Linked DNA regions of Homo sapiens. The protein of the gene in region 7 purifies or fractionates together with the protein of the main gene of each other region. This does not show direct contact. Each region holds a gene or a part of one and is shown on either strand. Other genes may lie near its edges.

Region 1 (4,139 bases), on a different chromosome or scaffold from region 7:
AGATTTCTGTGGTAGAGTTATGGAAAAGGGTGTCATTTCCTTTCACTACGTCTTAAGTGAGACAATTATAGCAGAAAAAGAATTTCTAGGATTTAAACTGTTAAAAACAGTTTGAGTGAAATCCATAAGTGCAACAAAATTATTACATTAAATGAATATGTTATTTAAAAATTGATTGTTTAAGCTAGGTGTGGTGGTGCCCGCCTGTAGTCCCACCTACTTGGGAGGCTGGGATGTGAGGATCTGCTTAAGGTCAGGAGTTCCAGGCTGTGGTGTGTCATTGTACCTGTGAATACCCACTGCTCTCCAGACGGGGCAATATAACAAGACCCTGCCTCTAAAAATAAAAAGCAAATAAAAATTGACTGTTTATGTCTTATTTTGTGGGACATGTAATTATAGAGTATTTTATAAGTCTTTTGGTTTTTAAAGATTAATCCTTAGAGTTTATTAAGTTCAATAATCAAATTATCAATATAGAAAAGTCAAAATCCCAGGTTTGTTTTTTGTTTGTATCATTATTGTAAATAAATAGTTCAACTTTCTTTTGGCTTCACTAGAATTTATATATTGGCTTATGAGTCATCAAATGAAAATTTAGGAAGAATTATAGGTAGCATTATTTATACGTTTTCTCATCATATAAAACTTGCTGTAACTTTTGAATTACTTAAATCACTTTGAAATATTTTTTCCTTTTTGAAACAAAAAAGTGACTTTTCCAGGTATGTAAATTCTTAATTATTTAACCACTTATCCTTTTATGCTTTATTGTTTTTAGTCCTACCTCTTCTGGGAAGATACATTTTTCCTTAGCAGTGGCTTTATGTTTATAGAAAGCAATAATAACGGCCAGGCGCAGTGGCTCCTGCCTGTAATCCCAGCACTTTGGGAGGCTGAGGCAGGCGGATCACCTGAGGTCATGGGTTTGAGACCAGCCTGATCAACATGGAGAAACCCTGTCTCTACTAAAAATGCAAAATTAGTTGGGCACGGTGGCGCATGCCTGTAATCCCAGCTACTCGGGAGGCTGAGGCAGGAGAATCGCTTGAACCTGGGAGGTGGACGTTGCGGTGAGCTGAGATCACACCATTGCACTCCAGCCTGGGTGACAAGAGCAAAACTCCGTCTCAAAAAAAAAAAAAAAGCACTAATAGCTTTCTCTATATAAATAAATATTTATTAAGCATCCACTGCATACAAAGAACTAGCCTAGGCTCAGGGGGTGTACATATGAGCAAAAACTTTTTGGAGCTTAGAGTTGGCATTACATTCTAGATTAGTGGTATTTTTTTTTTCTGGGTTTGGTGACTCAAAGGAGAAAATACGTCTTACACTGAGCCATCTGAATATAAAAACCCATCACAGGTTATTCTTTTGATATGTTTGCTTTGGAATTTTTTCCCTATATTTCATGCATCTGAAAGCATGAGTGTTGCTCTTTTCTGGTTTCTCAGCAGTTTATAGCAAATGAAATGTCTGCCTGAAAAAAACTATGGCACAGCATCCTAATATTCCAACATAATACATCATTTAGTCTTCATTCCATATGCATATTTTTGTATATTGTTCAGCAAGTATTATGTAAGCCAATCATAGGTGAAATAGGCATTATTTTAAAAATATGTTTGATTTAAATATTAAGTAGATAAGGCTGGGCACAGTGGCTCACGCCAGTAATCCCAAAGCTTTGAGGCAGGTGGATTGCTTGAGCTCAGAAGTTCGAGACCATCCCGGACAACATGGTGAAACCCTGTGGCTACCAAAATTTACAAAAATTAGCCAGGCATGGTGTCACATGCCTGTAGTCCCAGCTACTTTGGAGGCTGAGGTAGGAGGATCACTTGATCCCAGGAGGCGGAGGTTGCAGTGAGCTGAGACCACACCACTGCACTCCAGCCTGGGCAACAGAGCAAGACCCTGTCTTAGCCACAAAAAAAAATTTTATCATAAGTGTGTCATTTACGGTATCTTAGTCTGCCGTACCCCTGGATTTTGAAGTCCTCACCATAATTTTTCCTTCTGTTATAATTGTCCATTTCATTTGAGAGGATATTTTTATAAAGTTTTCAAATTGTAAAAAAAAAACAAAATTTGCCCTCTTAATGATTTTTCCCTTTTATTTATTTTCAGATAGTCCCTGAAACAGAATAGGCTCAGAGAGGCTCGCTCCTTTTATTTTTAGTTGACATGTAATAGTTGTACATATTTATGGTGTACAAAATGATATTTTGGTACATGTATACAATTAGTAATGATCAAATGAGGGTAATTAGGATATACCTATCACCTCAAACATTCACCTTTCTTTGTGTTGAAAACATTCAAAATTCTTTCAGCCCTTTTTTTTTTTTTTTGACAGAATCTTATTCTGTCACCCTAGGCTAGAGTGCAGTGGTGCAGTCATAGGCTCAAGCAACTTTTGGGCTCAAGCAATTTTCCTGCTTTGGCCTCCCGTGTAGGTGGGACCACAGGTGCACACCACCTTGTCCAACTAATTTTTTCATTTGTTTATAGAGATGGAGTCTCACTTTGTTGCCCAGGCTGGCCTTGAACTCCTGGACTCCTCCTGCCTCACCCTCTCAAAGCACTGATATTACAGGGGGTGAGCCACTGTGCCAGGCTTCTTGTAGCTTTTTTAACATATACCATAAACTGTTGTTAACTATATACCTTGCGGTGCTATAGAACACTAGAAGTTGTTCCTTCTATCTATCTAGCTGTAATTTTGTATCTATTAATCAACCTCCTCCTATACTCCCCTCCTGTCACCCTGCCCATCTTCTAATAACCATAGCTCTTCTCTCTACTTGTATGATCTAAGTTTTTTTTTTTTAGCTCCCCCATATGAGTGAGGACATTTGGTATTTATCTTTCTGTCCTTGACTTACTTAGCATGATGTCCTCCAGGTTTATCATGTTGCTGCAAATGACAGGATTTCATTCTTTTTTATGGCTGAATAGTATTCCACTGTGCATATTTACCACATTTTTTCCATTCATCTGTTGATGAACATGTAGGTTGATTTCATTTCTTGGCTATTGTGAGTAGTGCTGCAGTAAACGTGGGGTGCAGGTATCTCTTTGATATAATTTCTTTTCTTTGGGTAGATACCCAGTAGTGGGATTGCTGGATCATATAGTAGTTATATTTTTAGTTTTTTGAGGCACTTCTATAGTGTTTTTCATCCTGGTGTACTAATTTACATTTCTACCAACAAATGGGAGGCAGAGGTTGCAGTGAGCCAAGATCACGCCATTGCACTCCAGCCTGGGCAACAAGAGCGAAACTCCGTCTCAAACAAACAAAAAAAAAGAATTAGCTTTCCTAGGAATGGCTGAATTCACCATAATGATAATGTTGGTGGGGAGTCCCCTCAGTTTTTTTCAGCCTGAGTCCTAACATCTCACAAGTTTAAGGCTTCTCTGTATGTTTGTTCATCCTTCGTGGGTTCTTTTGCATAAAATACCACACTTTACATACCTTGAGTCAGAACTGAAAATTACAGCAAATATGGCTCTCAATTGTATATTTAAAAATCTCTAAGATAAATTATTGTATTAGAAAAGCAAAGTGCAGAAAAGTATGTGTAATATGACACCTAGTGTGAGAAGGCGGAATTAGAATATTTGCCTCCGTCTAGGTGTAGTGGCTCACACCTGTAATCCAAGGACTTTGAGATGCCAAGGCAGGAGTATCCCTTCAGGCCAGGAGGTCAAGATCAGCTGAGACAACATGGGGAGACCTCCATCTCTTCAAAATATAAAAATAACCAGGTGCACGCCTGCCCTGCTACTTAGGTGGCTGAAGCAGAAGGACTGCTTGAGCCTGGGAGGTCAAGGTTACAGTGAGCTGTGGTCAATCCACTGCGCTTCAGCCTGGATGACAGAGCAAGGGCCTGTCTCAAAGTACCTAAATAAAAAAGAAAGCCGAGTGCGGTGGCTCACGCCTGTAATCCCAGCACTTTTGGGAGGCCGAGGCAGGCTTATCACAAGGTCAAGAGATAGAGACCATCCTGGCCAATATGGTGAAACCCCGTCTCTACTAAAAATACAAAAATTAGCTGGGCATGGTGGCGTGTGCCTGTAGTCGCACCTACTCCGGAGGCTGAGACAGGAGAATTGCTTGAACCTGGGAG
Region 2 (3,500 bases), on a different chromosome or scaffold from region 7:
CGAGGAGCACACAGACTGAACATATACATTCCAGCGTGGTGCTTGGAGGGCAGCTCATCGGCCACAGAGGGGCTCAGTGCCACAGAGGGACACTGAGCCCAGTCTGGGGGCAGAGGAGGTGTCCATGAAGGCCTTCCCAGGAGGCAGCATAAGAACTGAGTCCTGAGGATGAGTGGGCATTACCTGGGCACAAGAGGGAGCGCGAAGTGTAAGCAGATGTGAGAGGTACGCAAGAACATGTGCAGGGAGGGGCAGAGGGGGGCGGCCCACTTGACAACTCTAGCCAGGTCAGCTCAGTTGACCTCACCTCTCAGAGCCTCGCTTTCCTCCTCTATAAAATTGGAGGAAAGCGAGACTTACCTCGTAGGGTTGCTGTGAGGTTTACATGAGATTTTGACACGGCAGAGAACCACTTAGCACAGTGCTTGGCACATAGGAGACCTCAGTAAGGGTGAGCCATGATTAGTATCACATACAGTTTCATTGTGCTAGAGTGAAATGCACAAGGAAGGGAGTGGCAGGAGGAGCAGAGGTGGGCAGGGACCAGATCATGGACAGTTTTGCACAACAGGCCAAGCCTGGACTTGACTCTGCATGTCTGCAGTCGTTTTCCCCGCTCTACTGATACCCAGGAGCCTGAGGACATTCCCACGTGCCACATACTTCAGGGACATATTCAAGATCTAGATGACTGACACCCTCCCTTAAAAGCAAATCTTTGTTTATGAGGACTATGGTAATTCCTATTTAACTCTTCAGGCTAAATCATCATGGTCACTCACTAGGGTATGTGATAAGATCATTTATGGTTATGAGTATTTTTCAGGTGCCTGCTGCCTGTAACTCTGCCCCTCTCCTTCACCCCAAGCAAATGAGACTGGTACAATTTGGAAAACATTGAATTGGCTATGATTTGTTTTAAAAAGGTAATAAATCATTCAAAAGCATAATAGAAAATGCTCAGTAAATGTTAGCTACTATTGTTAGTATTTATATTAGTAGAAATAGTAGTACTAATAGTAGCAGTAGTAGTAGGAGTAGTAACAACTTACTTTCAGCCCACGTCAGAGGCTACACTGTGGTTACAGAACCACTGCGGTTGGTGGGTTTTAAGCAGGGGAGTGGCAAGATCATATTTGCATTTCAGATCACTCTGGCATCAGGATTGGAGGATGGATTTGCTGGAGGCAAGACTGTAGGCAGGGAGACCAGTTAGAAGAAGGCCCTTGCAATTGTCCAGTTAAAAGATAACAAAGGCCTGAGCAAGGCAGTGGGTAGAGATACAGAAGAAGAGCGGCAAGATTCGCTAATACTTAGAATGTAAAATTAGCAGAAATTTGGTGACTGACAGAAGGGGGAATGAAGGCTGGGAAGAGGGATGAGTCTAGGATCCCCAAATCAATGGCCTGGCTTCTAGGACTATCTCTGAGATAGGATGTAAGACAAGAGGAGGAGGGGTTGGAGGGACTGACCATGACATTTGGATTTGGATATGATGCGTTTGAGATTCCTGTGGTCCAGAGGCAACCAGCTCCACGAGTCAGAAGCTGAGAACTCAGGCCAAAGTCAAGGTTACAGCCTAGTATTAGGGAGTCCCCAGGTAGTGGTTATAATCAAGGAAGTGTAGGAATCTCCCCAGGGAGTGTGAGTAGTTGAGAGCAGCTACTAGCACAACCCGGGGAGGAAGGGAAAACAAGAAACCCTCAAGAGAGAAAGGAGAATCAGCAAAGTCTCAAAATCAGGTATCAGGATCAAAAGCTGCTGAGGGGTCCAGTAATACAGGGACTGAAATCAGGAGATCATCAGTAACTTTCACAAGGGCTTCTTAGAGTCCATCAAAGTCCCATGGATCGAGGCACAAGCTAATGCCTACAGCAGCTATGCTTCACAGGTATCTTGATCCTTGCAGCCCTTTCAGACACCTGTTCAGTCCATTTTTGAGAGTCACTAGTGTAAGAATACTGCATGCATATCCCTCACAACGCTAAGAAAACAAAGTGCAACCTCCAAGAAAAGTGGCTCCAGGCTCCCAGATCAATGCTGGGCAGAAAGAGGGCTTTGTGGGGACTGAACAAACTGGGAAGTGCATGCCCTGTCTGAAGCAGGTAACTGCTTATCTTCGAACGGGGCCAGTAGGGAATGCAGGCCCCGGATGGCCAGATCTGACTTTCAAGAAAAGACAAAATCAAAATTTTAACATGAAACCTCCTATTTTTGAAAACCTGCATGGCACAAGGGCAGACAGAACTCATCTCTGTAAAATTTCCAAATTCTACTGCAGATGCTATCCCTAAATATTTCTCAAATTATTCTCTATGTCTCTCATCACTACCCAAATTCACCTAACATTGGTCTAGGTAACAGTCATACAAAAATTATTTTTAAAAAATCACAAACTTATTATATTCTTGTCGGAAAAAAGCCCCAATCCTTGTATTATACATGTAATCCTCTATATTTATTTTATTTTATATTTTATTTTATTTTATTTTATTTTATTTTATTGAGACGGAATCTTGCTCTATCACCAGGCTGGAGGGCAGTGGCACGATCTTGGCTCACTGCAACCTCTGCCTCCCGGGTTCAAGTGAGTCTCCTGCCTCAGCCTCCTAAGTAGCTGGGACTACAGGTGCACGCCACCACACCCAGCTAATTTTTCTATTTTTAGTAGAGACAGAATTTCACCATGTTAGCCAGGATGGTCTCAATCTCTTGACCTCCTGATCTGCCCGCCTCGGCCTCCCAAAGTGCTGGGATTACAGGTGTGAGCCACCGTGCCCGGCCGTAATCCCCTATATTTCTAAGAAAAACTTTCTAACCAAGACTGGAAACCAGCAGCTATAAAATAAAACTAGGTCAAGTGTGGTGGCTCATGCCTGTAATCCCAACACTTTGGGAAGCTGAGGTGGTAGGACTGCTTGAGCCCAGGAGTTTGAGACCAGCCTGGGCAATAGTGAAAAAAAAAAAAAAAAAAAGCCAGGCATGGTGGTGCACACCTGTAGTCCCAGCTACTCAGGAGGCTGAGGCAGAAGGATCACTTGAGCCCAGGAGGTCAAGGCTGCAGTGAGCTGTGATTACGCCACTGCACTCCAGCTTGGTTAACAGAGCTTGGGTAACCCTGTCTCTAAAAAAGAAAACAAACATTTCTGACTACTAAAAAATATTTTCTCTAGCAAAAGGTAATATAAACACATTCAACAGATAAATACCAGATAAATACTCATAATGCAGATGACAGGCAAAGGGCTAATTTTTATAATATATAAATTTTCTTACAAATTGACAAGATGAACAATTCAACAGAAAAATCGAATATTCAATTAAAAGAACAGATCCAGATGGCCAAAAGAGTATGAAAAACTGCTCCAAATGTAGAGAAATGCAAATTAAAGTATAAATGAGATATTATTTTATTCCCATTAGACTGACAAAAATGAACATAGTTCTAGCATATATTACTATAATGGGTATGTGGAAAAGTGAACTCATAAATTGCTGGT
Region 3 (4,139 bases), on a different chromosome or scaffold from region 7:
GGAAATATGAAGATCATTTTTATTTTTGTACGACGTAAATGTGTCATTTAGCCAAAGATAAATCTAAAAAAATGAAACCCAGAAGCAATACAGAGCAAAGAGAACAATAAGACATGTTTGCAAAATTATATTTTTAATCATCTCTTTTGGAAAGTGCATTTATATTTCTGTATTTTAATTCCAAGTGCACACACCCTGTATGTGAGTATTAACGTTAGTGGCTTGTGAAATTTATTCCAGTGTATCGCAGAACGTCCGCTCTTTGTTGGACACTAACAAGGCATATCCAACTTCTTTCACAAAGAGGCCAACTTCTGGTTTGAGGTCAGTGGATACCTGATATCCCCACTGCGAAGCCCTTTTGTGGATCCTGCACTCGAATGGAGTCTAATGGCTTCTCCATGGTACAAACACAGAGGGGAACAAGACAGATAAACCATCTTTTTCTTCCTTGTTTTCTTTTTTCTTTGTCTTTTTTTTTTAAAGCAGAGAAGACAGCCTGTAAATGACTAAATAAATGTTTCTTTTTTAAATATGAAAGTATATTACTTGGGAATCAGGCCAAGCCCAAGGAATCAGGGAAAACTTTTTGAAGAACTGATCTTCAAACCAAGCTCTGAAGGATGGCAGGAGGCAAGGAGGGTGGGGAGGCTGTGGAGAGAATTTCATGGAGAGCTGGGGGGGAAAGGTTATGGCACGTTTGAGGAAGCAAAACAAGCTGCTTTTGGCTTAAACGCAGAGTTGGAAAGACGAGTTCAGAGGTGAGGCTGTGGGGGACAGGGGCCTTATGGTGCAAGGCACTGTTGTTCTCTGTTAACTCTTTTTTTCTCTATCATAAAGGCAGTGGGACCAGACAGAGAGAATTCCAGTGAGCCACCTGTGTATCTAGAATAATCTGAAATTTGTAATCATGACTACAGGCTTGTCATTTGTCATACAATTTCATTTTGCTGTGATTTTTTCCGCTGAGGCTATGTTTAAAATGCAAAAATAGGCCAGGCACGGTGGCTGACGCCTGTAATCCCAGCACTTTGGGAGGCTGGAGTGGGCGGATCATGAGGTCAGGAGATCGAGACCATCCTGGCTAACACAGTGAAACCCCATCTCTACTGAAAATACAAAAACAAAATTAGCTGGGCGTGCTGGTGGGTGCCTGTAGTCCCAGCTATTCGGGAGGCTGAGGCGGGAAAATGGCATGAGCCCAGGAGGCGGAGCTTGCAGTGAGCCGAGATCGCGCCACTGCACTCCAGCCTGGGCGACAGAGTGAGACTCCGTCTCAAAAAAAAAGCAAAAATAAACCATTGTTGTCACATTTCCATATAGGAATAAAATGGAAGGAGAATCAAGCAGATTTGAAATCCACACTCCAGTTTCTGACAAGAAAAAGAAAAAGTGTTCTATACATAAGGAAAGACCTCAGAAACATTCCCACGAAATTTTCAGAGACTCCTCCCTGGTGAATGAACAGTCTCAAATAACTAGGAGGAAAAAGAGGAAAAAAGATTTCCAGCATCTCATTTCTTCTCCTTTGAAAAAATCCAGAATCTGTGATGAGACTGCAAATGCCACTTCCACACTCAAAAAGAGAAAAAAGAGAAGATATAGTGCTTTGGAGGTGGACGAGGAAGCAGGTGTTACAGTTGTCCTTGTGGATAAAGAAAATATTAACAACACACCAAAGCATTTTAGAAAGGATGTTGATGTTGTTTGTGTTGATATGAGCATAGAACAGAAGTTACCAAGAAAGCCTAAAACAGACAAATTTCAGGTACTTGCTAAGTCACATGCACATAAATCAGAAGCCCTGCACAGTAAAGTTAGGGAGAAAAAGAATAAAAAGCATCAGAGGAAAGCTGCATCCTGGGAGAGCCAGCGGGCAAGGGACACCCTGCCTCAGTCAGAATCCCACCAGGAGGAGTCCTGGCTTTCTGTGGGTCCAGGGGGTGAAATTACAGAACTACCAGCATCTGCTCATAAAAACAAGTCTAAGAAAAAAAAGAAAAAGTCCAGTAACCGGGAATATGAGACACTGGCCATGCCTGAAGGATCGCAAGCAGGCAGAGAGGCCGGGACTGATATGCAGGAATCCCAGCCTACTGTGGGCTTGGATGATGAAACTCCACAACTACTAGGACCTACTCACAAAAAAAAGTCTAAGAAAAAAAAGAAGAAAAAGTCCAATCACCAGGAATTTGAGGCATTGGCCATGCCTGAAGGATCACAAGTGGGCAGTGAGGTTGGGGCTGATATGCAGGAATCCCGGCCTGCTGTGGGCCTGCATGGTGAAACTGCAGGAATACCAGCACCTGCTTATAAAAACAAGTCTAAGAAAAAAAAGAAAAAGTCCAATCACCAGGAATTTGAGGCAGTGGCCATGCCTGAGAGCCTCGAGAGTGCATACCCTGAAGGATCACAGGTGGGCAGTGAGGTTGGGACTGTGGAAGGCAGTACAGCTCTTAAAGGGTTCAAGGAATCCAACAGTACAAAGAAGAAGTCTAAGAAAAGGAAGCTTACGTCTGTCAAAAGGGCACGAGTGTCTGGTGATGATTTTTCAGTGCCCAGTAAGAACTCTGAGAGCACACTCTTTGATTCAGTAGAAGGTGATGGCGCCATGATGGAAGAAGGTGTGAAATCTAGGCCCCGACAAAAGAAAACCCAGGCCTGTTTGGCAAGCAAGCACGTGCAAGAGGCGCCAAGGTAACGAGGGAGTGGTATTCCAGCTGCTGGTATATTTCTTTCGTATGGATTCTGCCGATACCTCTTTATTTAGCACAGACTTTTTTTTATTTTTAATTTTATTTTTATTTATTTATTTATTTATTTTTGAGGTGGAGATTTGCTCTTATTGTCCAGGCTGGAGTGCAATGGTGCAATCTCGGCTTACCGCACCCTCCACTTCCCGGGTTCAAGCGATTCCCCAGCCTCAGCCTCCTGAGTAGCTGAGATTACCGGCATGCACCATGCCTGGCTAATTTTGTATTTTTAGTAGAGACGACGTTTGTCCTTGTTAGTCAGGCTGGTCTCGAACTCCTGACCTCAGGTGATCCGCCTGCCTCAGCCTCCCAAAGTGCTGGGATTACAGGCGTGAACCACCGTGCCTACCCTTAGCACATACATATTAAATGGCAAAAATCATCAAGAGGTAGACCCTCATTGTACAGAATATCGTACATCTTTAATTGTGTAAACTTGGCAGGTAGTTTAATTTCTTCATGTGTGAAATAAGACAGATTCGATTTTCACTAAGAACTATTCCAGCCCTAGAAAATCTATGAGTAAATTTAAAAGCCCAAATTACCTTTGAAAAATATAAAAGCCCAAATTACCTTTGAAAAATAGTCTGAGCAAATAACCAGTGGAAATGGGGCTTAGGGCTGCACTTTTAGCTTCTAGGCTCCCTCTGAGATATATCCAAGTAATTCAAGTTCCAGTAAAAAGTTTGAAAATCACAGACTGAGTCAACTCCAAGATCTCATCTTGCTTTAATATTCTAGTAGCCTAAGTGAGAGCCATTTTAAGAAAAGTTTAAGGCCAGGCGTGGTGGCTCATGCCTGTAATCCCAGCACTTTGGGAGGCCAAGGTGGGTGAGTCACTTGAGGCCAGGAGTTCGAGACCAGCCTAGCCAACATGGCGAAACCCTGTCTCTACTAAAAATACAAAAGTTAGCCGGGCGTGGTGGCGCGTACCTGTAGTCCCAGCTACTCTGGAGGCTGAGGCAGGAGAATCGCTTGAACCGGGAGGCAGAAGTTGCAGTGAGCTGAGATCGCACCATTGCACTCCAGCCTGGCGACAGAGCAAGCCTCTGTCTCACGAAAAAAAAGAAGGAAAAATTTTAAAGTTATGAGGTCAAGTGATGTGTTAATGTTAGTCAACCCAATTTTCTAACCCCTTAGGTTAGAACCTGCAAATGAAGAACACAATGTGGAAACAGCTGAAGATTCCGAAATAAGATACTTATCTGCAGATTCAGGAGATGCCGATGATTCAGATGCGGATTTGGGTTCTGCCGTGAAACAGCTTCAGGAGTTCATTCCTAACATCAAGGACAGGGCCACCAGCACAATCAAGCGGATGTACCGGGACGACTTGGAACGGTTTAAGGAATTTAAAGCACAAGGTGAGCTTGTGGGGCCTTAGTG
Region 4 (4,139 bases), on a different chromosome or scaffold from region 7:
CTGTTCTCACAGGCTGGGAGCCCGTCATAATGCTGCTGGTGGCTGCTTTTCTCTGTCATAGGAATTTGTGTACATGCAGAAAGCATCTTCAGAATTTTGTGTTGTAACCCCACAATAGAAAATGTAGTCACCACACCATAACAGCCTGTCAGTCGCTTCACACTTCTTTTCCTCTTCCTTCCATTCTAGAGCTACAAATTCCATTTTCCCATTCCTTCCTGGCCGCAGCTCTCTGGATGTTCCCCCATGCTCGTTCACTTTAACATGACCTCTTCCTAAGAAAAATGAGTGACAGCAGTTGCAGAGCCCAATGATAATTGTCTAATGCCAGAGTTAACAGCAGAGGTGCCTCTCTCTGCTCTCTTCATTTTTCTCTAATAACACATTCAAGTAGATTGCTATGAAGGGCTCAGATATAAAGCTAAAATTGAGAAGGGAAAACAGTGATTAGCAAAGGCACGAAGTATTAGGGAGTCAGGTATATTTTAAAGACATAACAAATACCATCATCTGCTGTGATGATCTTGTCTGGAAAAAATAGTGTGCCCGCATTTACGTGACTCCCTTTTTAATCCCGCATTAGAAAGGAGACAACTCAGTGATAACGCCACCTCTTCTGAAAGGAGGAAGTAGGTCTTTTGGGGAGGAACTCTGCAGGGTGGTGGAAGAGCATTTGCGTGAGGAGGGAGGGTCCTTGCATGAGCCCCACTTCACTGGCGTCGGCTCTGAAAACTCACTTGTGAGGGGCCTGGGCCTGGACTGCTGCTGCCTCGTGGGTGCACTGTAATCAACTTAAACAGACATCAGAATCTGGGTTATTACGTTGCAGTCATGCATTGTTCTTCCCAATTTCTGTTTGAGGAAAGGCCCTACATTGGCTGTATCTATACATGAACTGTTTCTTTGACTTAATGCAAAACAGCAACAACGACAACAACAAAACCCCTATTAACTAGTTGCAAAGTGCGCAGTGGGAAGAAGCAGACTGGAAAGTTTCTAGAATCCAAAAGGTCGACTCCTAAATATTTTTTGAGGAGGAAGCATGTGCATGTTTCGTGCCTGAGAACATGAGAGCCAGGCAGAGGGGCGTTGGGAGGGCTGAGGCACCACAGGGCAGATTGGAGAAGGCAGGCCGAGGCTCTCGGCAGCAAGGGCCAGCACGACAAATGGCTGCCCGCCTTCCTAGATCGAGCACTGCGGTGCTCGCCCTAGCAGTTGAATGGAGCAGACAGGGCAAGAGACAGGTTCCTGGGCCATTGCCACCTCTGTCTAGATGCTCAGAACTTTGCTTCTGCATTCTTTTGACTTCTTTGTATTTGTCAACTTCTTAACTTTTTTCTGCCTCCCCTTTAAATGTGTTTCTAATGAAAATCATCATTGGTTTATTAAAATGTAAATGCTTCATCAAAATGTGTATTTCTTAGATCAGGCATAAGACAGTTCCCTGAATTTATTTATTTATCCATCTCGTTTCATACTAAGGTGAGGTGATTCAGATCTGTTGATGGACCCATAAATAATCATAGTAGATTTGCTTTGTTCCTCAGAAGCAGCAGTTTCTTAGGAAGAGGAAGAAGGCCCTTTTAAACTGTAAATCACTCCCGTTCCCTCTCAGCTCCTGTTTGCTTAGGGTGTGTGGTTCCCCGACGTCGCCATGTGGACACAGCATATGAGCCACACTCTGGCTGGAATATCAGCACACGCATTTGAGAACACTGCCTTACTGTTCTGTGGCATATTTAGCTTTTTCTGTTCCTGACTGCAAACGGCATTACTCTTTTCTTTCTGCTTCAAGATTTGACTCCAAATTCTTGCATTTCTTTTATTTTTGTGTTTTTCCTCTTTTTTTCTCAAGAAAAAAGTGATGAATAGAAGCAAATCAGACCAAGAAAAAGATGGGACTGGGCTCTGTTTTCACCTTCCCTCGGGGTGCCAGGCACAAATGAGAGGCGAGTTCAATACCCATGCATTGCTCTCTCCTATGAAAAATAGATTTCCCATGAAGTCAGGGCACTCTCCCTCTGACTCCTGCCCTTTCAGAGCATGCTCTGCCTCCTCTGGTTGACTCTTTGCTGCTGTAAAAAGGCTTCACTCATCCATAGGGCTGTGAGTTGGCAGCAGAGAGAGGATGCTGAGGGGTGAGGGCTGGGGGTGTGCAGGGAGATGACACATTTCAGGTAAATCGCTGTCAGAGACGTGGCATTTTCATTCATAGCCTTGTCAGAGTAACCTTTGGGTGAAAGGGGGAGAATTGTCTTCTCCCACCTAAGAGGTTGCCATTCATGTTTTAATTTGCTGTTACATTTTCAAAAAAAAAAAAGAGCATACAACAAAATCATTTGTCTTCTTATGATCTGTTTCCCCCTCAGAACTCCTTCTTCTCTTTCTGTTTCTCTTTCTCCCTGGGAAGTATCCTTTCAGCAGCTCACGTTTCTTCCTTCATCTCTGACACGCAAGTCTCTCTTTGCTCCCTACATTCAAATGCTGTGGCCTTGCAGTTGATTGGATGAAGCGGAGGCTTTCCAGACTCCACTGCTAGGCAGGTCTGACTGTTGTGTTCTGGCTCCTTGTGGCTTCTGTTCCTGAGTGAAGCCCAAGCTCTTGTCTCAGTGCTTGGCACACAGCTCCGGCTTCGTTAGAGATCCTTTGGTCTTCACCCATCAGTAATTAAGAGATGGGGGAGTGAAGCTCCTCCAGGGTAGAAGAAGAAAGGCCAGTGCTGCTGGGACAGGGCTTTGTGCCCTCGTTACCCTCACAGGGGTGTTTACCCCACAGTGGAGGATGTTTGGCCACCCTTTTCTTCCTTTTTTTTTTTTTTTTCCTCTTCAGTATAAACTAAAGAGACCAAAATGCTTCTATTTCATCATCATCTGCTCAAATCAAGGGAGTGGATCAGTGAGTGGGCACACTTATTTGGTATTCAAGATTTATTAAGAAATAATGACATAATCTCTATTAAGGAAATTCTAAATGTAGCCTATTTTAAATTCATCAGAGAGGAAAGAAATTGTCAGGAATATCATCCTGTCCCTTTAATATCATAGAGGTCCCCTTCTCAATTCCTAAGGGTTTAGGAAAATATTTCCTTTCCTAGGAAGGTGTCACTTCTACTTCATGTCTAATTAGCTCAAGAATAGGCCAGTTTTGTGCATCAAGGTCTTGGGTGTTTTTGAAAGAGCAAAAAGTTACCTTGCTGTGCCCTTCCTTTTACAGCGTTTCTGAGATTAAGATGGAAGATATTTTGTGTGTTCTGACAAGAGATGATTGTTTTAAAGGGAAACGATGGGGAGCCCAGGTGAGTTTTGTTATTTATTGTGCTCGCTGCCAACAGATGTGACTCACTTGATTTGGGGTAGTAGAGACTTTGTGTATGGGTTACTTCCTCTGTCAAGCAATACATTTATTTTAAGAACCATGAACATTAGATGAGGCCAAATCTTGATTGTTTTTTTTTTTTCCTCGTCTTTGCTTCTGGATGCGTTTGCCACTCTCATCTAGCGAGTGGGCTACGGTCCATTCTGGAAGCCTGCCAGACAGCAGCAGGCTCCCCAGAAAGGAGGTCCAGGCCAGAATGAGTCTGGAGGCAGTGCCACACGCTCAGCCCCGGTGGTCCCTGTCCAGATTCTCAGCAAGGACGGCTGCCTAGACCTGCCTATCCCAGACAGCATGGAAGAAATAAGTATCTCTGTGTCTCCTTTCAGACACAGTTAGTTCATCCATTTTTTAATGTGTGTGTGCTATCCACAGAGGAAGAGTAAAGTTGAGATCATTAAGAAGAAAAATTTTTATTATCCATGCAGTTCCATATGGAGATTCTGAGCAGGTGCAGGCAGCCCTGGACACCCTTTCCTGCTCCTTCTCTTAAGGCTGCACCCGACTAGACCATTATTCCCTCACCCCACCCCACCCCCTTACTCAGTATTCCCGTGTGTGGGTGCAGTGTTGCTGTATGTAATTTTGTCTATGAGATATTAATCACTTGAATATTTTACATTTGTTTTTGTATGCCTGAGGATGAACTGGAAAATCAGGGCCAGATAGATCAAGCTTAAGAGTTTCTTTCATGCTTTAGCATGTGCCTGTATTTGGATCATTATTCTCCCTGAGCAGGGAGGGACCCCGTTTCACTGAGCCTGACT
Region 5 (4,139 bases), on a different chromosome or scaffold from region 7:
CTCTTTAAGGAATTGGAATTCCAGTGTACCCAGGTCAAGTGATTTTGAAGACTCAGCACATCTCATGCAACCAGTCCACAATAAGCCTGTTAAACAAGGACCTAGGTATAATCTACATCAGATCCAGGGTCACTCAGCTCCTCGACATTTCCACACCCAGACCCAAAGTTTGCAACAATCAGTCAGGTACCTCTCTCTGTTTTCCCTTTTCTAGAATTGAGATAGAAATTAATACTATAGTTAATGAAAACACATTATGATACTGATGAGGAATTCTTCGTTTTTTTTTTTTTTGGAGACAGAGTCTCGCTCTGTCATCCAGGCTGGAGTACAATGGCGCGATCTCGGCTCACTGCAACCTCCACCTCCCAGGTTCAAGCAATTCTCCTGCCTCAGCCTCCTGAGTAGCTGGGACTACAGGCACCCGCCACCATGCCCAGCTAATTTTTTGTATTTTTAGTAGAGATGGGGTTTCACCATGTTAGACAGGATGGTCTTGATCTCCTGACCCTGTGATCTACCCGCCTCAGCCTCCCAAAGTGCTGGGATTATAGGCGTGAGCCACCGCGCCTGGCCGATAAGGAATTCTTGCTGTTCAGTTTGAACCAGGAGATATTATTCTGCTCTGTATTTTGCATTTAGCACTGGAAAATCAGTTACAGGACAGGGAATATGTGACTTTTCAGAGGCAATTCGGAAAGGGACTTAGAAATTTTGATTGATTTTAAACTTAAGCCAAGAGTTTGATGTGGCTATCAAAAAGGATCTTATATTCTTAGGCTACATTAATGTAGTATAGTTTTTAGAATAAGGAAGATTGTTATTTAAGGAGTTGATATGAATTATAAGAAAAATAATAAAATCCTAATAGAGAAATAGCAAAGGATCTGAACAGATAAAACGACAAAAGTATTTTCACTTGGAAAATGGGGAAGACCTCAGTATGGTTAAAGTGGTACATTAGTATGAGTTCTCCAGAATGATAGAACCAGTAGGATGGATGGATGGATGGATGGATGGATGGATGGATAGATGGATGGGTGGATGGGTGGGTGGATGGGAGGAGGAGCTTTTTTATTCGGGGTATCAGCTTATGCACTTGTGAAAGCTGAGAAGTTTCATAGTAGGCTGTCTGCAAACTGGAGAACCAGGGAAGCTGGTAGCATTCAGTCCAACTCAGAAAGCCTCAGAACCACGGAAGCCAGTGGAGTAACTCTCAATCCAAGGCTGAAGGCCTGGGAATCTGGTAAGGGTTGGAGGACACTGGTATGAGTCCTCAAGTCCAGAGGCCATGAAGCCTGGAGTTCTAATGTCCAAGAGTAGGAGAAGAAGGTAAGGTATTCCAGCTCCAGGAGAGAACACAATTTGCCTTTCCTCTGCCTTTTTGTTGTATCCAGGCCCCCAGCCTATTGGATGGTACCTACGCAAACTGAGGGTGGATCCTCCCACTCAGTCCACCCACTCACACACCAGTATCCTTTGGACACACCCTCACAGACACTCCCAGAAATAATACTTTACCAGCTATCTAGATATCTCTTAACCCAGTCAACTTGACACCTAAAATTAACTATCACAAATAGCAAGCTATTATTCTTGCCTATTAATTTAGCAACAGTTTTGTTTGCTTTTTTTTTGGTGACAGAGTCTCACCCTGTCGCCCAGACTGGAGTGCAGTGGTGCAGTCTTGGCTCACTGCAACCTCCACCTCCCAGGTTCAAGCAGTTCTCCTGCTTCAGCCTCCCGAGTAGCTGGGATTACAGGCACTGCCACCACGCCCAGCTAACTTTTGTATTTTAGTAGAGATGGGGGTTTCACCATGTTGGCCAGGCTGGTCTTGAACTCCTGACCTCAGGTGATCTGCCTGCCTCGGCCTCCCAAAGTGCTGGGATTACAGGCATGAACCACCTCGCCCAGCCAGTTTAGCAACAGTTTTTGATAAGCACTCCATTGTAGTGGTTGTCAGGCTGGACCTGGATTTGCATGTTGGCTTTGTTACTCACCTGCTTTGTGATCTTGGATAAGATACTTAGCCTATCTACATTTCATTTTTCCCATTAGTCAGATAGATATTTTAATAATACATACCCCATAGTGGTTGTTATTGACAGTTAACATGAATTTAAACAGTTTAGCACGTTGTAAACACTTTCAAAAATACATTGCCATTTTTAGGCCAGGTGCATTGGCTCACACCTGTAATCCCAGCACTTAGGGAGGCCAAGGTGGGAGGACTGCTTGGGCCCAGGAATTTGAGACCACCCTGGGCAACATGCTGGAATCCTGTTTTTATTAAAAAAAGAAAAAAGAAACTTTAAAAAAATTGACATTTTTAAAAGATGTAAACAAACATTTCAAAAAACATGTCACTTGCGGCATTGAAAATTGGTATAAGCCTTTTGAAGCACAATTTCAAGAGCCATAAAAATACTTTACCTAGTAATTTCATTCTGAGACTTAAGGAAATACTTCAAAGTACAGAAAAAGCTATATTTACTTAATCATTCAGCACATTTCTCAAACTCCCTTCCATGTGTCAGATGCTGGGCTAGCTCAGGATACAGTAGTATATGTTTTGCAGTGTTAATCCCAGCATTATTTGTGGTTGTGGAAAAACTTGTAGCTGCTATATTTCTAACAGTGGAGAATGTAGCTAAATAATTATATCCATACTATAACATTTTATAAAGCCATTGGAAGTGTTAGCTCATTTATGATAAGTGAAACTAATAGGCTGTGATTCAACAGTCAGAAAAAGATGCTGGGGAAAAGAACAAAAGGAAATACTAACTAATTGAATTATAGTAAGTGGGATTGAGGGCTCTGCAGTGGGGGGTTTTTCTTTTCTCATATTTCCAAAGTTTCTTTATTTTTTTTTGTAAGATGGAGTTTTGCTCTTGTTGCCCGGGCTGGAGTGTAATGGTGTGATCTCAGCTCACCGCAACCTCCACCTCCCGGTTTCAAATGATTCTCCTGCCTCAGCCTCCCCAGTAGCTGGGATTACAGGCTCCCACCACCACACCTGGCTAACTTTGTATTTTTAATAGAGATGGGGTTTCTCCATGTTAGTCAGGCTGGTCTTGAACTCCCGACTTCAGGTGATCCGCCCGCCTTGGCCTCCCAAAGTGCTGGGATTACAAGTGCGAGCCACCACGCCCAGCCCCAAATTTTCTTTTGTATAATTATATGAGATTTTCTGGTCTTGCTTTTGAAACAAGTTAATTTAAATCCTAATTTTTCAAATTTGTTGCATATACCATGCTTAAAGTTTTTCACACTTCATAATTAATTTATGTATGTTCGTTTATAAAGTGGAAGCAGATATCTGTTCTCAGTACTAACTAGCTTATTCTGTCTTATGTCAACCCTGCCAGACTTTGGGAGAGAAAGTATTTGATTAGAATAGTATGGGCATGCATTTATCTCTGTAGGGAAAGGTGGAAAGGCTTCTGGGAATCCACGGTGTGCCAGGGCATTGTAGGTAATTGAAATGTATTTTTTTAATTTAGCTTCATAACAGCTCGTGAAGGTGAAAAGTATTATTAGCCCCATTTTATAAAGAACTTAGGGAAATAACAATTAAGTATTTTATCTGCTTAGGTCACACAGGTAGGAAACAGTAGAATATATATTATTTTGTAAATTTATAAATTTAAAATATTTTATGAAAATATAAATTTAAAATAAATAAAAATTATTGTATTAATCCTAGTAATGGCTTATTACTTTTTGTTTTGCTTTAAGAAAATTTTCAGAGAATCCACATGTTTACCAGAGACACCATCTCCCTCCTCCTGGTCCCCCTGGAGAGGACTATTCACACAGGAGGTATTCTTGGAATGTGAAGCCCAATGCCAGTCGGGCAGCCCAGGATAGAAGAAGGTGGTATCCTTATAATTACTCCAGACTCTCCTATCCAGCCTGTTGGGAATGGACCCAGTGATACAAACCTGTCCTGGAATTCTACCTGGAGACCAGAGCTGGCCTGAAAATTACTGGTGTGACTTTTAATTAGTTCAGGTCTAATCAGGTTTCTTTATTGTTCCCTTATGTATTCAAGCTTAAGGAAAAATTGCATTGCTGTTTACCTCTTTGCTGATAAATTTGCAGTAATTACAGCATTGCAGGAAAAACAATCT
Region 6 (4,139 bases), on a different chromosome or scaffold from region 7:
CTGCAAACAGCTCTGGAGGACAGTCATGTGAATAATAGGGGACAGTTATCAGTCCAAGATCGGTATTAAATTTTTTAGTTTTATGAGTCATGAAAATTCAATATATATATCATTTCATATAGCATTTTATAGCTTGCACAGATGGCTTCTGTATGTTATATAATTTGATCCCTGTAACCTTATATAAATGTCATTTTCCCCATTTTATAATCAAAGGCACTAAGCTTAAGTGGTTGTGATTTCCTCAAGCCCATACAGCCTCTACTTTATAGAGCAGGGGCTTCAATCCAGATCTTTTGTTCTCAGATAATTTGTTTTTTTCTTAGACATTTGAAACTGCAATTAATTCTGTAAAAAATAACAAACTCATTCCTTTTATAATATTGCATATAAATTAATATTTTATAAATTGAATTAATTGGTTACCTGTTTTTTAGACTTATCCTTTCATCTTCTCCACAAAGCAAGAAATCTGCCTTTTAAGTTTAAGATTTGATAGTAATAGGAAAATTGCCTTCCCTCTACTTAGTTGATAAACCATCAAGGAACCATATTAATGAATTATACTACCTCCAGCATAAGTGTTTTAATTTCATCAGGATTCAACTGTTTCTTGAATATTTATAAATGAAACATGGGAAATATTATGGTTGCTGAAATGAATATTTGCCAACGCTTATATTTGCTATACCTAGCCCTAGTATATAGAAGTCATTCTTATATGTTTAATTATAATTATAATTGGTATATCTTTACTTGACCAGAGCATATGATCCTTAAGAATAAAATGAACTTGTCTCATGTCAGAGAGAAAATTATTAAAATACATAGACGTTCAGGATAGCTTACGGAAATATTACAGTAATAATTTTTACAAGTAGAAAATGTAACTTTTCAATAGCTGTTGTGGTGTTTCTTTATTTTTTTCCCCTCTATTGTTCCCTTCAAGGATGAATTACAAAGGCTGCTGGGGTTGCTAAGAGACCAAGATCCCCTCTCAGAGGAGCAGATGCAAGGACTGTGCATTGAACTGAATGATTTCATTGTTGCTCTATCCTCAGTCCAACCCTCTGCCAAAAGGGAAGGCTTTGTCACTGTCCCTAATGTGACATGGGCAGATATTGGTGCCCTGGAAGACATTAGAGAGGAGCTCACCATGGCAATATTGGTAGGTATATCAGCTGCCAAATATTATTGGCATGTCATGGATTAAAGACCAGAGATAAAGCTCCATGCATGTGTACTAGGTTCTGTGGCTAAACTGACTTGACTATAATCACTGTGTCTAACTTGACTTGAATGTAGCACTTCTTTCAAGCCCCCAACAATGGTTTTTCTTTTGTTTGAGATCCGATTTGTTTATTTTTTTAAATTGATGTATCATAGTTGTAAATATTTTTGGGATACATGTGATATTTTGATACATATATTAAATGTGTATTGATGAAGTCAGGGTAATTGGGATATTCATCACCTCTAATGTTTATGTTTTCTTTGTGTTGGGAACATTATACTTTTTTTCTTCTAGCTGTTTTGAAATATACTTTTTTCTTCTAGCTGTTTTGAAATATAATTTCCCTACCGTGCTATCAAATACCAGAACTTATTACTCCTATCTAACTATTTTTTTTACCCGTTAACCAACTTCTCTTCATTATACTCATCTCCACCTTCCCTTCCCAGCCTCTGGTAACCATCAATTTGCTCTCTGTCTCCATGAGATCCACTTTATTAGCTCCCACTATGAGTGAGAATGTGCAATATTTGCCTTTCTGTGCCTAGTTTATTTCACTAACATAATGACCTCTAGTTCCATCCATGTTGCTGCAAATGACAGGATTTCATTCATTTTTGTGGCTGAATAATATTCCATTGAGACCTATTTTATGCTGATCCTTTTGGTTGTGCTTCATTTCTGTAGCAGTGAGTTTAAACCACAAAAAATTATAGGTTTCAGTTAAGACCAAATTGTTTGACAAAGACTTTCTGAACTTGATCTTATGGATCAAGGCAATTTTAATGCACATAAAACTTTGGATTAATTTTTATTTACTTTACTTTTCTACTCATCATTCCATGGTTCATTAATGGAAATATGATCGATTTAGAGGTATGTACTACTGAAAGAGAAAATACACTGGGATTATAGTCAACAGATATCTCTGGCTTTTAACTATGCAAAAGTTACTGCTGCATCTGATTTCTTAGAGGAGACCATTGTCTAAACATTTTATAACCTAGAAATTTAAATGGTTTTCTAAAACATATTTGTTGAAATATTATATCATTATGTCTAAAATGTTCTTAGACATTATGTTCAAGTATAAATTCCTCAAGTGCAGGGACTTTTCTCTTTATCACCACAGAGCATGAACAGGTAAACCAGGTACTGTTCGTATCTTCAGGCCTCACAGTCATGTTGAAAATAAGCCTGAGAAGCTGGGCGCAGTGGCTCATGCCTGTAATCCCAGCACTTTGGGAGGCTGAGGCAGGTGGATCACCTGAGGTCAGGAGTTCAAGACCAGCCTGGCCAACATGGTGAAACCCCGACTCTACTAAAAATACAAAAATTAGCCAGACGTGGTGGCATGTGCCTGTAGTCCCAGCTACTCACGAGGCTAAGGTGGGAGGATTGCTTGAACCCAGGAGGCAGAAGTTGCAGTGAGCCAAGATAGCACCACTGCACTCTAGCTGGGTGACAGAGGGAGACTCAAAAAAAAAAAAAAACCATAAAATATGTATCTGGAAATAATTTGAACCTGCAGTATAAAATGGACATGTAATGGATCGCCGTTTGTATCATTATTTCCAGGCACCAGTACGCAACCCAGACCAGTTCAAAGCTCTTGGATTGGTGACTCCAGCTGGGGTCCTCCTTGCTGGTCCTCCTGGCTGTGGGAAGACTCTGCTGGCGAAGGTATCATATAAGTTCAATTGCATGTAATTTATTTCTTAGTATCAGATAGGATAATATGAACTTAACTTTAAATATTACAGTGAGGTAAGTCTTATGCATAATTTTTATCAGAAGTTTATTTTAGCAAAACTGACAACTTTCTTCATTAAAGTTTCCTACTTTTTTAAATTACAAAGGCACATGATTGAAAAATGTTTATATCAACCATAATCCTATCAATTTTAACATGCAATTATTATATTTTCTGTGTATTACATTTTAGCTTTTTAGTGAGTATTATTCCATAGTTTTAGTTTTTACTTGACTTAGTTTCCTGCTTTGGTATTGTTATTATTTATAACTTAAGTATTTTCCTCTATATTTCTTGTAATTATTTTCTAAAATTGTTTTTTCATAATAGAAAATAAAAATAAGCAAAAAGGAAAAGCATTGTGTGTAATTCTCTCACTGCCACCTACTACTATTATTTCATTTCATTGTCAATCCTTCAGATATTTTTCTATGCATACATATCAAAGTAATATCTAACTTTTAAGTTTTTACATGCATGTTTACAAATATAAGCTTTTTTTATTTTATTTTATTATTTTTGAGACGGAGTCTCATTCTGTCGCCCAGGCTGGAGTACAGTGGCATGATCTTGGCTCACTGCAACTTCCGCCTCCCGAGTTCAATCAATTCTCTTGCCTCAGCCTCCCGAGTAGCTGGGGTTACAGGCATACGCCACCACGCCCGGCTAATTTTTGTATTTTTAGTAGAGATGGGGTTTCACCATGTTGGTTAGGCTGGTCTCGAACTCCTGACCTCATGATCCGCCCATCTCGGCCTCCCAAAGTGCTGGGATTACAGGCGTGAGCCACCACCCCCAGCCACAAATATAAGCTTTTTTAAACATGTTTTTCTCACTTAGCTGTATTTCCTGAACATCTTCACGTCAGTATATATTGATACACATCAATATTTTTAATGCCTGCATAATATTCTACCATAAAGATAGATGTTCTATAATTTATGGAAATGATCCCATATTGAAACAACACTACTTTAAATGGCCTTGCACTTATATTTTTGTACCTTGACTAATAATTATATTAGAATGCATTTCTAAATAATTTTCCAGTCAAAGGAATGTATGTTTTTAAGGCTTTTGAGCCATATTATTAAAGTGCCTTCCTAAAGGTTTTCACCAGTTTTTACCTTTTTTATCAATAGGGTATGAGAA
Region 7 (4,139 bases):
TGGAACCAGGGTGGGAGAAGCTATAAGGGATATTGAGACAATTGGGGCAATCCGAATATGGGCTGTTTATTAGATCATTTCATAACAAGGTTAAATTTCCTGACTGATTGTGGTTTTGTTGGAAAATTTCCATGTTTATGTTAGAAAACAAAAGCTAAAGTATCTAAGAGTAAAGTATCATGATGTCTGCAACTAAATCTATTCAATCCAAAACTAAAAAAATTTATGTATGTATATATTTGTACATACGTACAGAAAGAGTGTGTGTACAAAGACGGCAATTGACAATTGGTAAATCTAGGTGAACTGTATATGAGTGCTTATTATACTATTGTAAATTTTTTATTTCCTGGAGCCTTGAAATTTTTCTAAGTAAAAACAGTAAAGGAAAATAGACAATAGTGAAAGACAAAAATGAAAAAAGTGAAGGCAACTGAAGTTAGAGGACAGAACGGAGGGGGATGGTAAGGAGAAGAGACAGGGTAAATTAATCAGAGAAATATTTCTGATTCATACTCACATTGGCCCACACCCAGGTGTGGTGTGCACCCAGTGCAGTGGCGTGATCTTGGCTCACTGCAACCTCCACCTCCTAGATTCAAGTGATTCTAATGCCTCAGCCTCCCGCGTAGCTGGGATTACAGCACACTCCACCACACCTGGCTAATTTTTCTATTTTCAGTAGAGACAGGGTTTCACCCTGTTGGTCAGGCTGGTCTCGAACTCCTGACCTCAGGTGATCCACCCACCTCAGTCTCCCAAAGTGCTGGGATTACAGGTGTGAGCCACCGCACCCAGCCTCCCACACCCTCTTTTTTTATAACCCTCTACTCCAATAGGAGCTCCATTGTCTCTGCATTCTTTTCACCTTCCTGGCCATGCCTTTTCTAGTTCTTTCTCTACCCACTCCTTATACATGGTGTTTCTCAAAGTTTGGTAATCAGCTCATAGATCTTTTCACTCCACATATTTCTCTGGGTAATTTCACTCATTTCTAGTGTTGTTATTTTCTCAAGCTACCTATACACTTATGAGTGCAGTATTTCTCTAGTGTCTTTCCCCTGAACTTCTGACTTTGAACATAGAACATAAGCAGTTAGATGTATTTAGATACCCTACTGTCGCTCCTATAATCAGGTCCTCATCCCCTAGACAGTTGCAGTAGGTTTGTAAGTGGTCTCTTTGTCTTCAGTCATGGTCCCATAAATCCAATTTCCACGATGCTGCCAAACCATTCTTTCTAAAGAAGAAATACGAGCATGACAATTATCTGCTTAAAATCCATTATTGTTTCTGATGTCTTGGTCCTTATCCACCCTCCAGCTTCATCACTCATTGCCCCCTGACAAAACTTTACGTTGCAGGATATGCTTTAGTCACACTGAGTCTTGTCTGAATCCCCTGACATACCTTTCTCTGAAATGTTTCCATGTTATTCCCTCTGATGGGATGAGTCCTCCCTAGGCCCACCTTAACCTAGCCCCTTCATCAAAGCTCAGCTTAGGCAAAACCTTTTCCAAAAACCTCAACCCTTATGGGAGAATTATGTACCCTTGCTTTATTTCTCCATTAATATCATATACATATCCCATCATAACCCATACACTATTGTATACCTGTTTACTTTCTGCTTACCCATCTCTCCCCACTGTAAACTCTTGGAGGGCAGGAATGTGTCTTATTCATTTTCATAGCAAGTTATCACTATATGTTGTTGAATTAAACTTGTATTTTAAAAAATCTGATATAGTAATCTCAAGCAGCAAAAAAAAAAGAATCAAAGAATAATAATGATAATAATGATAAAACTTATTGCCTGCCAGGCACTGTAAATACTTTACATGATTTACTCATGTACTCCTCAAAACTCTGAAGTAAGTTCCTATTAATATTATTATTTCACAGGGGAGGAAACTGACACAGAAAGGCTAAGAATCTCTTGAAGGTCATAAATAAGTTATGACAGTATAGTAGAGCCATGATTTGAACCTATGCAGTATAACTCCCTGGTCCTCATCCTTAACCCCTACAGTATACTTCCTCTTGTTGTTTGTTTGTTTGGTTGGTTGGTTTCGGTTTTGGTTTGGGGGTTTTTTCTTAGACTGAACCTCATTCCAATTTTTATATTTTTAGTAGAAATGGGGTTTCACTGTGTTTGCCAGTCTGGTCTCGAACTTGACCTCAAGTGATCCATCCACCCACCTTGGCCTCCCAAAGTGCTGGAATTACAGGCGTGAGCCACCATGCACGGCCTATAATATGACCTTTATTATTGTTTGATTTGTTATCAAGAGCTCCAGATGTACCAGTTTGCTGGTTCCTTAGCCTAGAAATCTTTTCTTAATGAAAAGAAGATGTAAGTAAAAATGAGAGTAATTTCTAGAGATCATAGAGTTATTTAGGATATTTATGTTGTTTTTTTCTTTTTTTTGGAAACAGTTTCTCGCTCTGTGTTCCAGGCTGGAGTACAGTGGCGCAGTCATGGGTCACTGCAGCCTCAAGCTCCTGTGCTCACGTGAGCCTCCCGCCTCACCCTTCAGAGTGGCTAGGACTATAGGTGAGCCACCACGCCAGGATTTTTTTTTTTTCTTTTTTTCATACAGTTGGGACTCTCACTGTGTTGCCCAGAGTGGTCTCAAACTCCTGGGCTAAAGGCATCCTCCCACCTCCACCTCAGCCTCCCAAAGTGCTGGGGATTACAGCACTTTGAACCACCGCCCTTTGCCTATATGTTTATGTTTCTAATGATTTTTCAGATTATTTGAGAAAGCAGTGTAAGAAAAAAACTAGTTTAAAAAATACATAGGCCAGGCATGGTGGCTCATGCCTATAATCCTAGTACTTTGGGAGGCCGAGGGAGGCGGATAACCTGAGGTCAGCAGTTCAAGACCAGCCAGGCCAACATGGCGAAACCCCATCTCTACTAAAAATACAAAAATTAGCTGGGCGTGGTAGTGTGTGCCTGTAGTCCCAGCTACTCGGGAGACTGAGGCAGGAGAATCGCTTGAACTCGGGAGGCAGAGGTTGCAGTGAACCGAGATCATGCCACTGCACTCCAGCCTGGCCAGGCAACAGAGCGAGACTCCGTCTCAAAAAAAAAAAAACAAAAACATAAAACAAAAAAAAAAACACACACACAAAACATAAGGGCCGAGTACAGTGGCTCACACCTGTAATTTCACCACTCTGGGAGGCCAAGGCCAGTAAATTGCTTGAGCTCAGGAGTTTGAGACCACCTAGGCAACATGGTGAAACCCTGTCTCAACTAAAAATAAAAAAACCAGCTGGGCATGGTGGTACGCCCTTGTAGTTCCAACTACTCAGGAGGCTGAGGCAGGAGGATTGCTTGAGTCCAGGAGGTCAAAGCTGCAGAGAGCTGAGATCACACCACTGCAATCCAGCGTGGGCAACAGAGCAAGAACCTGTCTCAAAACAAAAGGAAAAATGCTTTAAGGAATCACAAAAGAATGAGCTTCTATTCAGTGTTAACAATTAAAATCCCACCTAATCCAGCAAAAAGAATTTGTAGGTCTCATTATGCTTTTGGAAAGGGGATAAGTATACGTATTTTAAGCTAAAGGAAGACTGCTATATACTCTTTCAATTTGGGCAATTATCCTCTGGAAAGTACCTAATGCTTTTAATTAAGTAATGATACTAAAACAAACCTTAATTTTTTGTGTTCTTGTTTTGACTGAGGTAGAAATTTGCTATTCTCCACTTTCGCAAGAGCTGTGATTATTTTTGGATGGAACAACTAACTATCTAGGAATTATCTCAGACTGCATCTTTCTACCCTGACAGATTTTGCATGGTTCCTTAATCCTCTGCATGTGCCAATTACTGTATTTAATTAGAAGGAGATTAGATAGAAGCACTAATAACCCAAGTCAGACACACACACACACACACACACACACACACACACACAGAGAGAGAGAGAGAGAGAGAAAGAAATATGACTTAGTTCCTAGACATCTTTATCATTGAAAAATAATTCCCAAAATGACAGACATTGGCTTGTGTAGGACTCTAGAAATTTGTATGCATAGACACTGGAACAGCCAACAGGAAAGGACTAGAAAGAAATGGCCCTGTTTCAGAATGGTGGTACTCAAATTTTCCAGCTAATGGTACAT

The links.
Region 1: the proteins of PRR11 (region 7) and ZBTB11 purify together in Homo sapiens (affinity purification with mass spectrometry; 2 studies listed by BioGRID and IntAct, with this or other methods). This does not show direct contact.
Region 2: the proteins of PRR11 (region 7) and MOV10 purify together in Homo sapiens (affinity purification with mass spectrometry; 3 studies listed by BioGRID and IntAct, with this or other methods). This does not show direct contact.
Region 3: the proteins of PRR11 (region 7) and TTF1 purify together in Homo sapiens (affinity purification with mass spectrometry; 3 studies listed by BioGRID and IntAct, with this or other methods). This does not show direct contact.
Region 4: the proteins of PRR11 (region 7) and DDX31 purify together in Homo sapiens (affinity purification with mass spectrometry; 3 studies listed by BioGRID and IntAct, with this or other methods). This does not show direct contact.
Region 5: the proteins of PRR11 (region 7) and DUSP11 purify together in Homo sapiens (affinity purification with mass spectrometry; 3 studies listed by BioGRID and IntAct, with this or other methods). This does not show direct contact.
Region 6: the proteins of PRR11 (region 7) and NVL purify together in Homo sapiens (affinity purification with mass spectrometry; 3 studies listed by BioGRID and IntAct, with this or other methods). This does not show direct contact.

The regions. Positions count from the first base shown.
Region 1 is NC_000003.12:101,666,839-101,670,977, reverse strand, and holds part of ZBTB11 (zinc finger and BTB domain-containing protein 11), read left to right. Parts: intron 1-4,139. UniProt on the Homo sapiens protein: May be involved in transcriptional regulation.
Region 2 is NC_000001.11:112,684,659-112,688,158, reverse strand, and holds part of MOV10 (helicase MOV-10), read right to left. Parts: intron 1,194-3,500; exon of another isoform or gene 1,053-1,193; intron 1-1,052.
Region 3 is NC_000009.12:132,400,013-132,404,151, reverse strand, and holds part of TTF1 (transcription termination factor 1), read left to right. Parts: intron 1-1,323; coding exon of another isoform or gene 1,324-1,330; coding exon 1,331-2,697; intron 2,698-3,893; coding exon 3,894-4,117; intron 4,118-4,139. UniProt on the Homo sapiens protein: Multifunctional nucleolar protein that terminates ribosomal gene transcription, mediates replication fork arrest and regulates RNA polymerase I transcription on chromatin.
Region 4 is NC_000009.12:132,624,820-132,628,958, reverse strand, and holds part of DDX31 (ATP-dependent DNA helicase DDX31), read left to right. Parts: intron 1-3,213; coding exon 3,214-3,295; intron 3,296-4,139. UniProt on the Homo sapiens protein: May have DNA helicase activity and RNA helicase activity. Probably have ssDNA and RNA dependent ATPase activity. Plays a role in ribosome biogenesis and TP53/p53 regulation through its interaction with NPM1.
Region 5 is NC_000002.12:73,762,465-73,766,603, reverse strand, and holds part of DUSP11 (RNA/RNP complex-1-interacting phosphatase), read left to right. Parts: intron 1-9; coding exon 10-186; intron 187-3,744; coding exon 3,745-3,943; 3' UTR 3,944-4,139. UniProt on the Homo sapiens protein: Possesses RNA 5'-triphosphatase and diphosphatase activities, but displays a poor protein-tyrosine phosphatase activity. In addition, has phosphatase activity with ATP, ADP and O-methylfluorescein phosphate (in vitro). Binds to RNA.
Region 6 is NC_000001.11:224,284,804-224,288,942, reverse strand, and holds part of NVL (nuclear valosin-containing protein-like), read left to right. Parts: intron 1-949; coding exon 950-1,168; intron 1,169-2,812; coding exon 2,813-2,917; intron 2,918-4,139. UniProt on the Homo sapiens protein: Participates in the assembly of the telomerase holoenzyme and effecting of telomerase activity via its interaction with TERT. Involved in both early and late stages of the pre-rRNA processing pathways.
Region 7 is NC_000017.11:59,158,320-59,162,458, forward strand, and holds part of PRR11 (proline-rich protein 11), read left to right. Parts: intron 1-2,444; exon of another isoform or gene 2,445-2,557; intron 2,558-4,139. UniProt on the Homo sapiens protein: Plays a critical role in cell cycle progression.